Regions from separate parts of the Homo sapiens genome. Here region 2 is linked to region 1. Evidence: fine-mapped expression QTL. Tissue or cell type: subcutaneous fat. Region 1 holds a variant in brackets; the other region holds the start of a gene. All regions are shown on one strand. Distances are from middle to middle.

Region 1 (6,188 bases):
TAATGATGTTTCATTTAACCTAGTGAAAGAAACCTAGGTTATTCACTAGGTTATTCATATTGAACCTAACCCAATATTTCAACATGCAATCAACACAAAATTGTTAAGATTTGGTACATTCTTTATACACTCTTCAAAATCTTGTATATATTTTACACTTACAGCACACTTCAATTCAGACTAGCCATAATATAAGGGCTCAATAGCCATATGTAGTTAGTAGCTACCACATTGGTCAGTGGAATTCTTTAATACAACATAGGAGAGTATCTTGGTAAGTTTTAGGTAAGGAAATATTTCTTTAAAAGGGCCAAAAAGCACTAGCTATGAGGAAATATGGATAAAATGGACTGTATCAGAATTAATTTCTGCATCAAAAGATACCATTAAGGAGGACAAATGCAAGTTGCAGGGCTGGAGAACATACTTGCAACACATACAACGTGCTTGCATCCAGAACATAGCAAGGATAAAGGGGGTAATGAATGGTGTAGTACATGAGTGGAGTGTTTGGGGTGTTGTTAATGTTCTATTTCTTGACCTCAGTGGTGGTTACACTGGTCTGCTCCCTTTGTGATAATTTGAGTTGTATACTTACTATCTGTATTAATACTTCTCTGTATAAAATTGTACTTTGATTTAAAAGCTTGTTTGAAAATAAAGACAGAGAAACAAACAGAAGGGATACAAAAGAGAATAGAACGGTTGGGACAAGTAGAAATCATGTACCTAGATGTTAGATTTAAACTCCAATACATCAGTGATTTAACTAAATATAAATGGCTTAAATTATCCAGTTATGAATCTAAGATCATCATATTGGAAAAAAGAAGCAAAGCCAAACTCCATGCTGTTTACAAAAGACACAACCAAAGCATAAGTGTAAAGGACAGTTAAAAAACCAAATGGGCCGGGAGCGGTGGCTCATGCCTGTAATCCCAGCACTTTGGGAGGCCGAGACGGGCGGATCACGAGGTCAGGAGATCCAGACCATCCTGGCTAACACGGTGAAACCCCGTCTCTACTAAAAATACAAAAAATTAGCTGGGTGTGGTGGCGGGCCCCTGTAATCCCAGCTACTCAGGAGGCCGAGGCAGGAGAATGGCATGAACCTGGGAGGCAGAGCTTGCAGTGAGCCGAGATCATGCCACTGCACTCCAGCCTGGGCGACAGAGCAAGACTCCGTCTCAAAAAAAGAAAAAAAGAAAAAACCAAAGAATGAAAACATACACCAAGCAAATACCAACCAGAAAGCCAGGTAATGTAGACATACCTACATTAACATCCCATAAAGCAGACTTTAAGCAAAAGGCATTACCAAAGATAGAATGGCATATCTCCTAATGATAAGCTGACATTAACAGGAATAAAGTATATATTTAAAATTTGTGTTTGCCTACTAACATAGTCCAAAAATATATAAAGCAAAAAATCTACAAAAATAAAAGGAGAAACAGACATCCACAATAGTAGTGTGACATTTTAATCACTGTTCTCTCAGAAACTGACAGAACAAACAGACTATTGGAATATATAAAGATTTCAACAACTTGATCAGCAAATTTGACCAAAAATATATAGAGAATACTGCAATCAATAACTGCAGAATACAATTTCTTTGTAAGCACACAGAGAACGTTTACAGAAATTGGCCACAGCTGGATCATAAGACAAATCTTAATAAAATTTCCATGAAAATATTTAAAATCTCATTAATAACCAGCAAAATGCCTGTTAAAACCATCAGATACCAGTACATATCCAAGACAATATATCAAGTCTTGGTGAGAATGTGGTACTCAACTTTCACACACTATTGGTGGAAATATAAATCAGGGCAACAAAGTTATTTATCAAAGCAGAAGATACACATACTCTATGACCCTCAATTCCACTCCCAGATGTATACTTTATAGAAATGTTTGTGCATATGTACGCCACAAAGGAATGCAAAAATGTTTACAGTGGTATTATTTAAAAATAGCTAAAAAGGTAAACAATCCAAATGCCAGTAAACAGAGAATTTTAAAAAATGAGATACTACACAGCAACAAAAACCTATGAGCTAATGCTAGATGCAACAACATGGACCATTCTTACAAATAAAATATTGAATGAACAAAGCCAGACACAAATAAGTAATAATGTATGAGCATTTCTTTAAAATTTGAAAAAAACCGGGCAAAATCAAGTGTTTAAGAACGCACACACAAGTAGTAAAAATCCTTTAAAAGTTGCCAAGAAATGTCCAGCATAAAAGGTAGGATATTAATTGCCTTTTTGGGAGGAAGAGGTCTGTTTCTCTGTTTATTTTATCATTTGTAGGGGGTATGAACAGGTCTTTTGAGATACTGGCTATAGTGAATTCCATAAGGCTGTACCCTATATAGGCATCCTTTTAATAGTACAGTTTCCCATTGCCCATCTGCCTGACCATATGGCCAGGCCATTGGCCACTGCCCATGAATTGGTAAAAACCCAAATGTGGAGGCAGTTCAGCCCACTGAAGTGACTTGTTTTTGCCTTCCTCAGTATGAGTGCCAGTCTTCCAAACAGGATGTTATTAATTCACTTTGGAATTGCCATCCATAAATCAAACCGCTCTTAGTTGGTCAATCAAGAGCTATTAATAGACATCATTCAAGTAATAATAGGATCTCGCAGCTCTTCAGTAGGGAAAAAGCCACCTGTTCATAAATATAACGAGGACCTCCTTGCATTTCCCTGGTAGCATGTTCCTGTATAAACAATTTCCATTTTATTACGAGACTCTTTTGGGCATGGCCTTCCTTACTACAGTGTTTTTCCAACATGA[C/A]AAACACATCATGAGGATTTCAGGTGTCAGGATTATTATATCCTTCAATGATGGGGCAGACTCAAAGCCCAATAGGCAGCTAGTTGTCTCTCCATTGGAAATTTTCTGGCCCCAAATCCCAGCATTCACCACTGGGTGGTGCTCACTGGCCTTAGCTCCAGTCTGCCTAAATAAAGCAAACGTTAAGCTTCTAACATGTTTTGTCCACCAGATATCCTGTACTGTTTCAAATTAACAATTAGTGTGGGCTTGGGCAATCTTATTGGTTCCTATTTAGCATATTCAATCAATATTGGTTGAAGGGAAGATTTACATGCCTTCTGTTTCATAATAGTACGTAGGGGAACTCTTCCATAGTTGGACACAATATCTTTCCTCATAATACATTTAGGTAAATACATTCACATAACATATTTACATAGTCTGTCCAAACATTCCAATTTTCATCCAAAGTTTCGCCTGAATCTCATCCACTTTGTAATCCTATGTCTTCGCAATCTAACCATAGATGCTATTAGAATTTCACCAACCTTTTGGAATGCAGGTATAAGACTCCCACATGAGTCCCAGAAATATCTCTTATCCATCCCCTGACTATTTTACTACTAATATGCATATGACTTTGGGTCTTCAGTTAGGGGTCAGGCCAAGCAACCCAGGCCCTTTTGTCATTTATCTTGATTAGATCACATGTTCGTCCCCTCAGGAGATCTGAGGTCAGATTTCCCATTGTCATGTTTGCCTTCTGGCTTCTAAAATTCCTCCAAACTAGGGTAAATATAGCAGACTTGATGGGGGACCTTCAACACTGGAGGGCAAGTCTAGGTTCTCACTGCTCCACCTAATTTCTAAGAGTGCTCCACTGAGACCTTTGTTTAGACTCCCTCAATGTCCACTTAACTCATCTCATTTCTTAATAACTGTTTATAAAGATTTCCACCCTCTTGGAAATGTTCGTCTTTTCTCACTCTCTGGTGAACCACTCTAATTTTCTTTGCCATCTGTCATTTCAGCCTAACTTTTCCCTTTAGCCACAGCCCTGAGGCTAGCAGCTGTAGCTCAGGCTGGCCAGAGCCCAAGATTGGGCCAGCATCAGGATCCGCCTCAGCCACTTTCATTTTAACGATTACAGATAAAAATAGCCAAGGGACTGCCTATTTAGTTTGTTTCCTTATGCATCCAGTGGGTCAGCTCCTTGGGGGTTGGATCCATTGTATTGAAAAAGCAATGGTAACTTTTACCTCCTGTAACTGTTTGCAGAACAGCTGCATTTCTATACGCACAGGTGACCGCAGGACAGCCCAGGAATCAAAGGCTTATCATCTTGACTTCACATCCTTCCTCTTTTCAAACCATATGTTTCAGTGAGTCAGGGCTGTTCTAGTGAATCCCATTTCTGATACAACTGAAAAGTTAGGGAATGGTCCACAAGATCCCCTCATTTCTGACACCAACTGAAGATATCAAGGATCCCTGATTACCCTCATTTCTCAAATCATTTGCAAGGTTTTGGAACCCCAAAACTACCCTTAGGTTTGGTAATTCACTAGAAGTACTCACAGAATTCACTGAAAGCTGTTATACTCGTGATTACTGTTTACTACAACTAAAGGATAGAGATTAAAATCAGCCAAGGGAAGACATACAGGGCAGAGGCCAGAAGTTCCCCACACAAAGCTTCTAGTTATCCTCTCCCTGTGGAGTCATGGACAGCATAACTTAGCTTTCCTGGTGATAATGTGTGACAATATGCATAGTACTGTCAACTAAAGAAGCTCACCCAAGCCTTGTGTCCAGTGTTTTTATTGGGCCTCCATCGTGTAACATGGTGACTTCCCTCATGGTGGATCTTAGCATCCAGCTCCTCCTGAAGTTGAGCTGATACCATTTGATCCAAAGCCCCTATTCTAAATCACATTGTTAGACTATCTGGTATTGCTTCCACTCTAAATCACATTGTTAACATTATCTGGTGTGGCCAGCCCTCATCCTAAATCACATTTCTAGAATATTCAGTGTGATGCAAGGTCCCTGGGCAAACAAAGACACCCCTATGAGGTGTGACATTCTAAGAGCTAGGGAGTGTCTTCCAGAAGCCAAGGGCAAAGGCCAGACTTCTCTTCAGGCAAGGTTAAGTTCCTTAGTACACAGAATAAAATGTCAAATTCAGAATAGCAGCGATCTCTATGTTTGAGAGTGGGAGATGTGTTTGGGGAAGGGAGTATACCAGGGGTAGTGTTTTCTTTCTTTTCTTTTCTTTTTTTTTTTTTTGAGACAGTTTCTTGCTCTGTCACCCAGACTGGATGGAGTGCAACGGAGCATTCACAGTTCACTGCAGGCTTGACCTCCCAGGCTCAAGCAATCTTCCCACCTCAGCCTCCCAAGTAGCTGGGACTACAAGCATGTGCCACCATGCCTGACTAATTTTTTAATTTATGTAGAGATGGGATCTTGTTATGTTGCCCAGGCTGGTCTTGAACTCCTAGGCTCAAGCCGTCCTCCCACCTGGGCTTCCTAAAGTGCTAGGATTACAGGTGTGAGCTACCGTGCCCAGCCAGTGTTTTCAATATTAAGCTGGTGGTGGGTATATGCTCATTATACCATATTTATATCTTTCTATATGTCTGAAATATTTCACAATCTTTAAATGAAAACTGGATCATTTGTCATTTATATAAAAGCTTTATATATATAATATGTAAATATGTATCTACATATTCATATATAATACACTCAAAACTATACATACATGAATGAGTAAAACAAAGATCTAGAATGATGTATAATTTGATACCAGTGCTTACCTATGGTTAGAGCAGTGATCAGAGATGAGATTATAGAATTTTCAGTTTTTTAATTCCAGGTTTATTGAGGTATAACTGACAAATAAAAATTGTATATACTTAAGGTGTACGACATGACGTTTTGATGTATGTATGCACTGTGGAATGATTACCACAATCCAGTGAATTAACATAATCAGCACTTCACAGTTACCATTTTTTTGGTGGTGAGAACACTTAATATTTACTGTCACAAAATTTCAAGTATACAGTACAGTGTTATTTACCATAGTCACCATGGTGCACATGAAACCTCCAGAACTTATTCATTCTGCCTAGCTGAAACTTTGTGCCCCTTGATCAATATCTCATTTCCCTTAGCCCTCAGCCCTGGCAACCACCATTCTATACTTTGCTTCCATGCGTTTGACTTTCTTAGATTCTACATATAAGTGAGATCATGCAGTACTTGTCTTTCTGTGTCTGACTTGTTTCACATAGCATAATGTCTTTCAGGTTTATTTACGTTGCTGCAAATGGCAAGATGTCCTTTTTTAAGGCTGAATAACTTCCACTGTGTGTGTATGTGT
Region 2 (6,188 bases), 35 kb after region 1:
AATGGATCAAAGACCTGAATATAAGACACAAAATTTAAAAAATACTAGAAAAAAACATAGGGGAAATGCTTTAGGACATTGGTCTGGAAAAATATTTTATGAGTAAGACCTCACTAGCACAAGCAACAAAAGCAAAAGTAAATAAATGAGATGATATCAAGCTAAAAAGCTTCTATGCAGAAAGGAAACAACCAACAGAGTGAAAAGGCAACCTACAGAATAGGAGAAAATATTTGTCAGCTATTCATCTGACAAGTGATTCATATCCAGAACATACGAGGAACTCATACATCTCAATGGCAAAGAAACCCAATCTCATTTAAAAATGGGCAAATTATCTGAGTAGACATTTCTCAAGAAAAGATATACAGATGGCCAACAAGTGTATATGAAAAATGCTCAACGTCACCAATCACCAGGGAAATGCAAATCAAAACCACAATGAGGTAACATCACCCCAGTTGGGAGGACTATGATAAAAAAAAGATGAAAATTAACAAATGATGGTGAGGATGTAGAGAAGAGGGAACTCTTATATACTTTTGACCAGAATGTAAACTAGTATAACCACTATGGAGAAGAGTATGGAAGTTTCTCAAAAAACTACAAATAGAACTACCATATGATCCAGCAACCCCACTACTGGGCATTTATAGAAAGGAAAGGAAATCAGTATATTGAAGAAACGTCTGCACCTCAATGTTTATTGCAGCATTATCCACAATAGGAAGATATGAAATAAACCTAAGTGTCCAACAACAGATGAATAAATAAAGGAAATGTGGCGTATATACACAATGGATTATCATTCAGCCATAAAAAATAATGAAATCTTGTTATTCACTATAACATAGATTGAACTAGAGGACATTATGTTAAATGAAATAAGCTAGGAACAGAAAGTTGAATACCACATGTTCTCACTCATAAGTGGAAGCTACAAGAAGTTGATTTCATAGAAGTAAAAAGTAGAACAGAGAATAATAAGGGCTGGGAAGGTTAGGGGAACAATGATAAGGAGAGAGATTTGTTAAAGGATACTAGATTACACCTGGAAAGGAAGAATAAGTTCTGGTGTTCTATACCACTGTAGGATGACTATGCTTAACAATAATAGATAGCTTCAAATAGCTAGAAAGGGGATATTGAATGTTCCCAACAACAATGAAATAATAAATGTTCAAGATGATGGATATGCTATTACCCTGATCTGATTACTATACATTATTAGTATGGAAACATCACTATGCCATCCATAAATATGTACTATTATTACATATCAATTAAAAATAAAATACCCCAAGACATTCAGAGACAGGAGGGAGACAAAGAGCATTATTTGGATGGGCAAGGGGGAAGTTGCTAGTCATCCCCAAATATCCTTTTCCAAGGTGCCTGATGTCTACCCGTGTCTAACTGCAGGCCTTGCCTCTGAACATTTGACTCTGAAAGTCCAGATCTGACCAAACCTGACACAGACTCAATGTCAGTAACAGCCCCAGGCGGGGAGGCTCCTTCCTACCTGAGCCATCTCCTGGAAAGATACCAGTTGTTGGGTTCTGTGGAACATCTAGGAGAGGAAGAGAGGATTTCCTTCAGTTGGGGGTAGAGATGAGATAAGGGTAGGCATTTCCCCTTACTCCTGCCAGAAACCACAGAAATGCAGAAGGGACAGGGCTCATGTCCTTCTGGCTCCCGAACTCAGCCAGGCCTCCAGGACACTAAATGTCCCCAGCACCAGCCCATCCTGTCTCCCCTACACCCTCAGGGACCCCAGCATCCTGGCCCAGCACTTACAGGTGACGTTGAGCTGGATGGTTCTCTCCGTAGTCACACCAGCTCCAGCGAACTTCACCTGACAGGTCAGGTTGGTGCCGTGGTCCTGGGGCCGTGGGGTGATTATGAGCACCGAGGAGTGAGTAGTCCTGGGGCCCAGGGAGGTGGGGGCAGCTGACAACCAGGAGAAGATCGGGGGTGTTCCCTGCTCACAGGCCCAGGACACAGAGCAGGTCAGGTTTTTGGAGTGGCCGGGTTCTAGAGTGCCAGGGATGAGGATTTTGGGCCTGTGGGTCAAGTCTAGTGAGGAGAAAGAGGGGATGCAGAATCAGGAGGGAGGGTCCAGGTGAGGGCCTGAGAGAAGATCAACCTCTGGTCAAGCTCCCCCGCTAAGCACGACAGGCTTTACCCCTAAACCCCTCCCAGTACCAGGGTCCCATCCCAGCCCTGCCCTGCAGTACCCATGAACTTCCCTTGCGGCCACTTCTGAAGCCTGTGCCTCACCTGTCACATGCACAGAGAGCTGGGGAGATTTGTAACTGTATTTGGTACTTCCTCTCTCCATCCGAAAGAAGTATGAACCATTATCCCTCCTCCTGGCGTCTACGATGCTCAGGGAGCAGTTGTTCCTACTGGGATCCCCAAGGAGGCGGAATCTGCCCTGAGTCTCCTCCTGTACTTCTTGATCTAGCTTGTTTGTGGCCACTGGAGAGTCCCTGGATATAATGGCTCCTTCCCGGAACCAGTAACCATGAACTGGGGAGTTCTTGTCGTAGTAGGGTATGGGATGGAAGAAAGTGCAGGGCACGAGGACGCACAAACCCTCCTGTACCGTCACTGACTCCTGCACTTGCAGCCAGAAATTTGGATCCATAGCCAGGGCCCCTGTGGGGAAACGAGGGTCAGCTCGGCCCAGCCCGACAACCCCTCTCCCCACAGCCACTCACCTGCCCACAGCAGGGGCAGCAGTAGCAGCAGCGGCATGTCTGAGGAAGCAGCTTCCAGGGCTTCCTGTGTGAGCAGAAAAGAGGAAGGGAGTGGAGGGGAAGGACTACAGGGCCGGACAGGAAGCTGGGGAGGAGCAGGAGACCTCAGCCCTGCATGGAAGAGGAACCTCAGACCCACACATGCTCAGAGCTTGTCCCCTCCACACAGATTGACCCTCATGGGCCAGAGATGCCAGAGACCCGCCCAGAGATGGGAGGAGATGGAGCAGAATCTGAGTCTTGCCTTCCAGGAGCACCAGAGCCTGGATCAGTACCTTCAGGGCCATCTGAGACATGCGAACCCCATGTCTAAAGTCCTTCCACTCTGAGGTGCTTTTCTGTGCACAACTGTTTACACCAGGGCTGATCACTGCTGGCCTGGCCCGAGTCGCAGCCTCACCTAGATCCATGGGGTGTTTAGTCCAGCAGGATATAGGATTCTATAGGGTCCGTGTGAGTGTCTGGGGCAGAGAAACAAAGAAGAGTCCTAGGTAAAGTGAAGGTGGCAGCCATTCATTTATTCATTCATTCACTAAAGATATAGTGAGTGACAGAGCAGGAGCACCGTCATCTCGGAGAAACACTGCCTCTTTAAGTTCCAATTTCCTTTCTAGCCTCATGCATTTCAAGGAAATCACTTCTCTGCTAACTACAAGCAACCAGAAAGAGCAGACAGTGAAACACAGATAAGACAGCTCGGGCACAGAGGGAGGTAGGGGGAGAGTCTCTTGAGTTACTGCCAAACTTCACCCTCATACAATGGCCCTAGTAAAACAGTGGGCCTTAATAAGCAAATTCCTTTCCCTTCAGGTGCACTAAGATAGGGAAGCTAAAAGCAGACTCAGTGGGTATGCCTGTAGCTGCAGAAAGATGTATGGGTACAGACACACACCTCTCTCTCCCAGATAAGCACAACAAAGAGACTCAGAAGCAGTCCAAGTCTCTGATAAACTCTCCCACCCTAAATCCTTAAAAACTCTTAGTCTGTAAGAGAGTGTGCCTCTGACTTAACTCGGCCAGAAACTCCTCTCAGGTTTGTTTTCTCTAAAATCTGTCTTGACTGGTGAGCCACCATTCGTGTTTCTTTCCTCTTTCTTTAATTCTTACAGTGAGCCTTTGTGTATAGGTGGGGCTTGAGAAGAGATGCCACTGACCTGATTCCTGCCCTTAAGATACTCCCCATCCATAGCCTCATGTCCTCACCACACACACACATGCTGTCTGGCTTTAGAGCTGTGAAAAGTTGGGAATTTGCCATGTATCATGGTAGCATATTGGAAATTTTAAAAGAAATATGACTATAGAATTTTCCCCTGGCACCTAGTACACTGATTTGCACAGTGTCAATGACATCTCCAAAACAAGAACCATGCAGCATCTTCCTGTGAAACAAAAGGGAGAACACATGTTCTATGAACCAGTGCAGAAAAAACTTCTTTTCCATTCATGCTGCCATTTGGTTCAGTGTGGGCAGAAGCAAGTTTTTTTAGAGGCTCATCATATGGATCAACATTTTCTTTCATGTAAAAATCTGCTTCTCACAGTTAAATATGGCCCAAAGACATAATATTTCCAGACAACATGAGTGGAGTGTACAGAGAAAATTAAACTTTAGGTCCAGCTACATGGTTTTCCATATCACTCTGTGTAGTATGCATCCAGCAAACCGTTGATCCCTGGGACATATTAGTACTTGCCACCATACCTTTGTCAAATCTCTACACACAATAGTATCTAGATAACTCTTCATTCATCCTTACTAATAGAGAGGTAGCTGCATCCTCATTTGATATACAACAAATTAAGTCTCCAGTAAATAATATCTGTTGTAAGTTATTTAAATATTTAGCATGTGGCACGTAATAGAAAATTCAATACATTTAGTGCTTTTTTTTTTAAGACAGGGTCTTGCTTTGTTGCCCAGGCTGGAGTGCACCGGCCTGACCACAGTTCACTGCAGCCTTGACCTCCCAGACTCAAGTGACTCTCCCACGTCATCCTCTCTAGTAGCTGGGATCACAGGCTCATACTACCAGGCCGGAGTAACTTTTTGTTTTTATGTTTAGGAGAGATGGGGTCTTGCTATGTTCCCCCAGGCTGATCTTGAACTCCTGGGTTCAAGCAATCCTCCCACCTCGACCTCCAAAGTGCTTTGACTATGGGCATGAGGCACTGTGCCCAGCCACATTTAGTTTTAACAATAAAGTCATACTATGTTCATGGACCAGAAGATCAAATATGAATATGTGAGTCTTACTGTGTTTCTTTAATGAATTTAATTAGGTATAATTTACATGAAATAAAGCACACCTACTTGAAGTTCACATTTGCATGAGATTTGACGAGTATGTACAGCCTGTATACTCACCACACTGCAGATATACAGCATTTCTAGTATGCCAAGGGCTTTTCTTCCCACCTTCTATGCTGGGCAACCACTGATATGTCCTCTTTCATTGTGAGTTAGTCTATTTGAAAATCTCCTAGAGATGTGTTAATTTGTGTCTGTATCCTATGACCCAGCATAATATTTTTTGAAACTGAACCACGTTGTTTGTGTCTGTATTTCAAAATGTGATATTGTTAAGTAGTATTCCATTTATGTGTATACTATAATGTTTTATTTCTCACCTATTGATAGACAAGGATTTTCCAGTTTTCTCCCTACAGGTATTCAGGTACAAGTCTTTTTACATACATGGTTTTATACTAATTGGTATACACAGGAAGATAAATAGTCAGACTAATGACTACTTGTAAGTTTAACCTTAGTAGGAATTGCCAAACTGTTGTCCAAAATGGTTTTGACTTTTTACCACTCCTCCTAGCCATGTGCCAGAATTCCAGTAGCTCCACACCCTTGTCGACGTATGATACTGTCCTGCTTTATATTTGAACAATTCTAGTGAGAGCATAGTGGCATCCAGTGTTTTAAATTTTTTAATTTATTTAAAGTTAGATACAGTTGAATTAACTCTTTATCATATGCAATTTTGATATGGTTTGAGAGTTGTATATAATTATATACCCACAACCACTGTGAAGACACTGAAGAGTGTCATTAACCAAACGTTCCTTCCTCCTGTCTCTGGGTAGTCAACCCTCCCTCCACACTTAGTCCATGAAAAAATGCTGATATGTTTTCCATCCCTACTGTATTGCCTTTTCACAGAATGTCGTATAAATGGAATCATACAAAATGTTGCCTCCAAAGTCTGGCTTCATTTACTTGGTGCAGTGCCTCTGAGGTTCAATCATGTGGTTGAGTGTATGAATCTATAGTTTGTTCCCTTTAATTGCTGACTCGTAACTCACTGTTTTTATGGACCCCCCATTTTGTATGCATTTACCATTTGAGGAGCATTCAGATTGTTTTCAGGTTTGGGTGACTATGAAATAATGTTGTTATAAATATTGGCATGCAGG

What was found. PIP is the estimated chance that this variant, and not a neighbour inherited with it, causes the effect.
Region 2: CD33 starts here. The variant in region 1 is fine-mapped to the expression of CD33 in subcutaneous fat (GTEx, PIP 0.95).

Annotation. Positions count from the first base shown.
Region 1 is chr19:51,256,308-51,262,495 of GRCh38, reverse strand. All of the region lies in intron 1 of SIGLECL1 (SIGLEC family like 1), which reads right to left. All of the region lies in intron 2 of LOC107985327 (a long non-coding RNA gene), which reads left to right. Among named protein-coding and RNA genes, the nearest start is that of SIGLECL1, 8.3 kb to the right of the region's middle. The variant C/A (reference allele first, on the strand shown) is at 2,816.
Region 2 is chr19:51,221,691-51,227,878 of GRCh38, reverse strand. CD33 (CD33 molecule) reads right to left here and starts at 2,799. Exons shown (of 7, transcript NM_001772.4): 1 at 2,724-2,799; 2 at 2,281-2,661; 3 at 1,798-2,076; 4 at 1,523-1,570. The coding sequence starts at 2,760. All of the region lies in intron 2 of LOC107985327 (a long non-coding RNA gene), which reads left to right.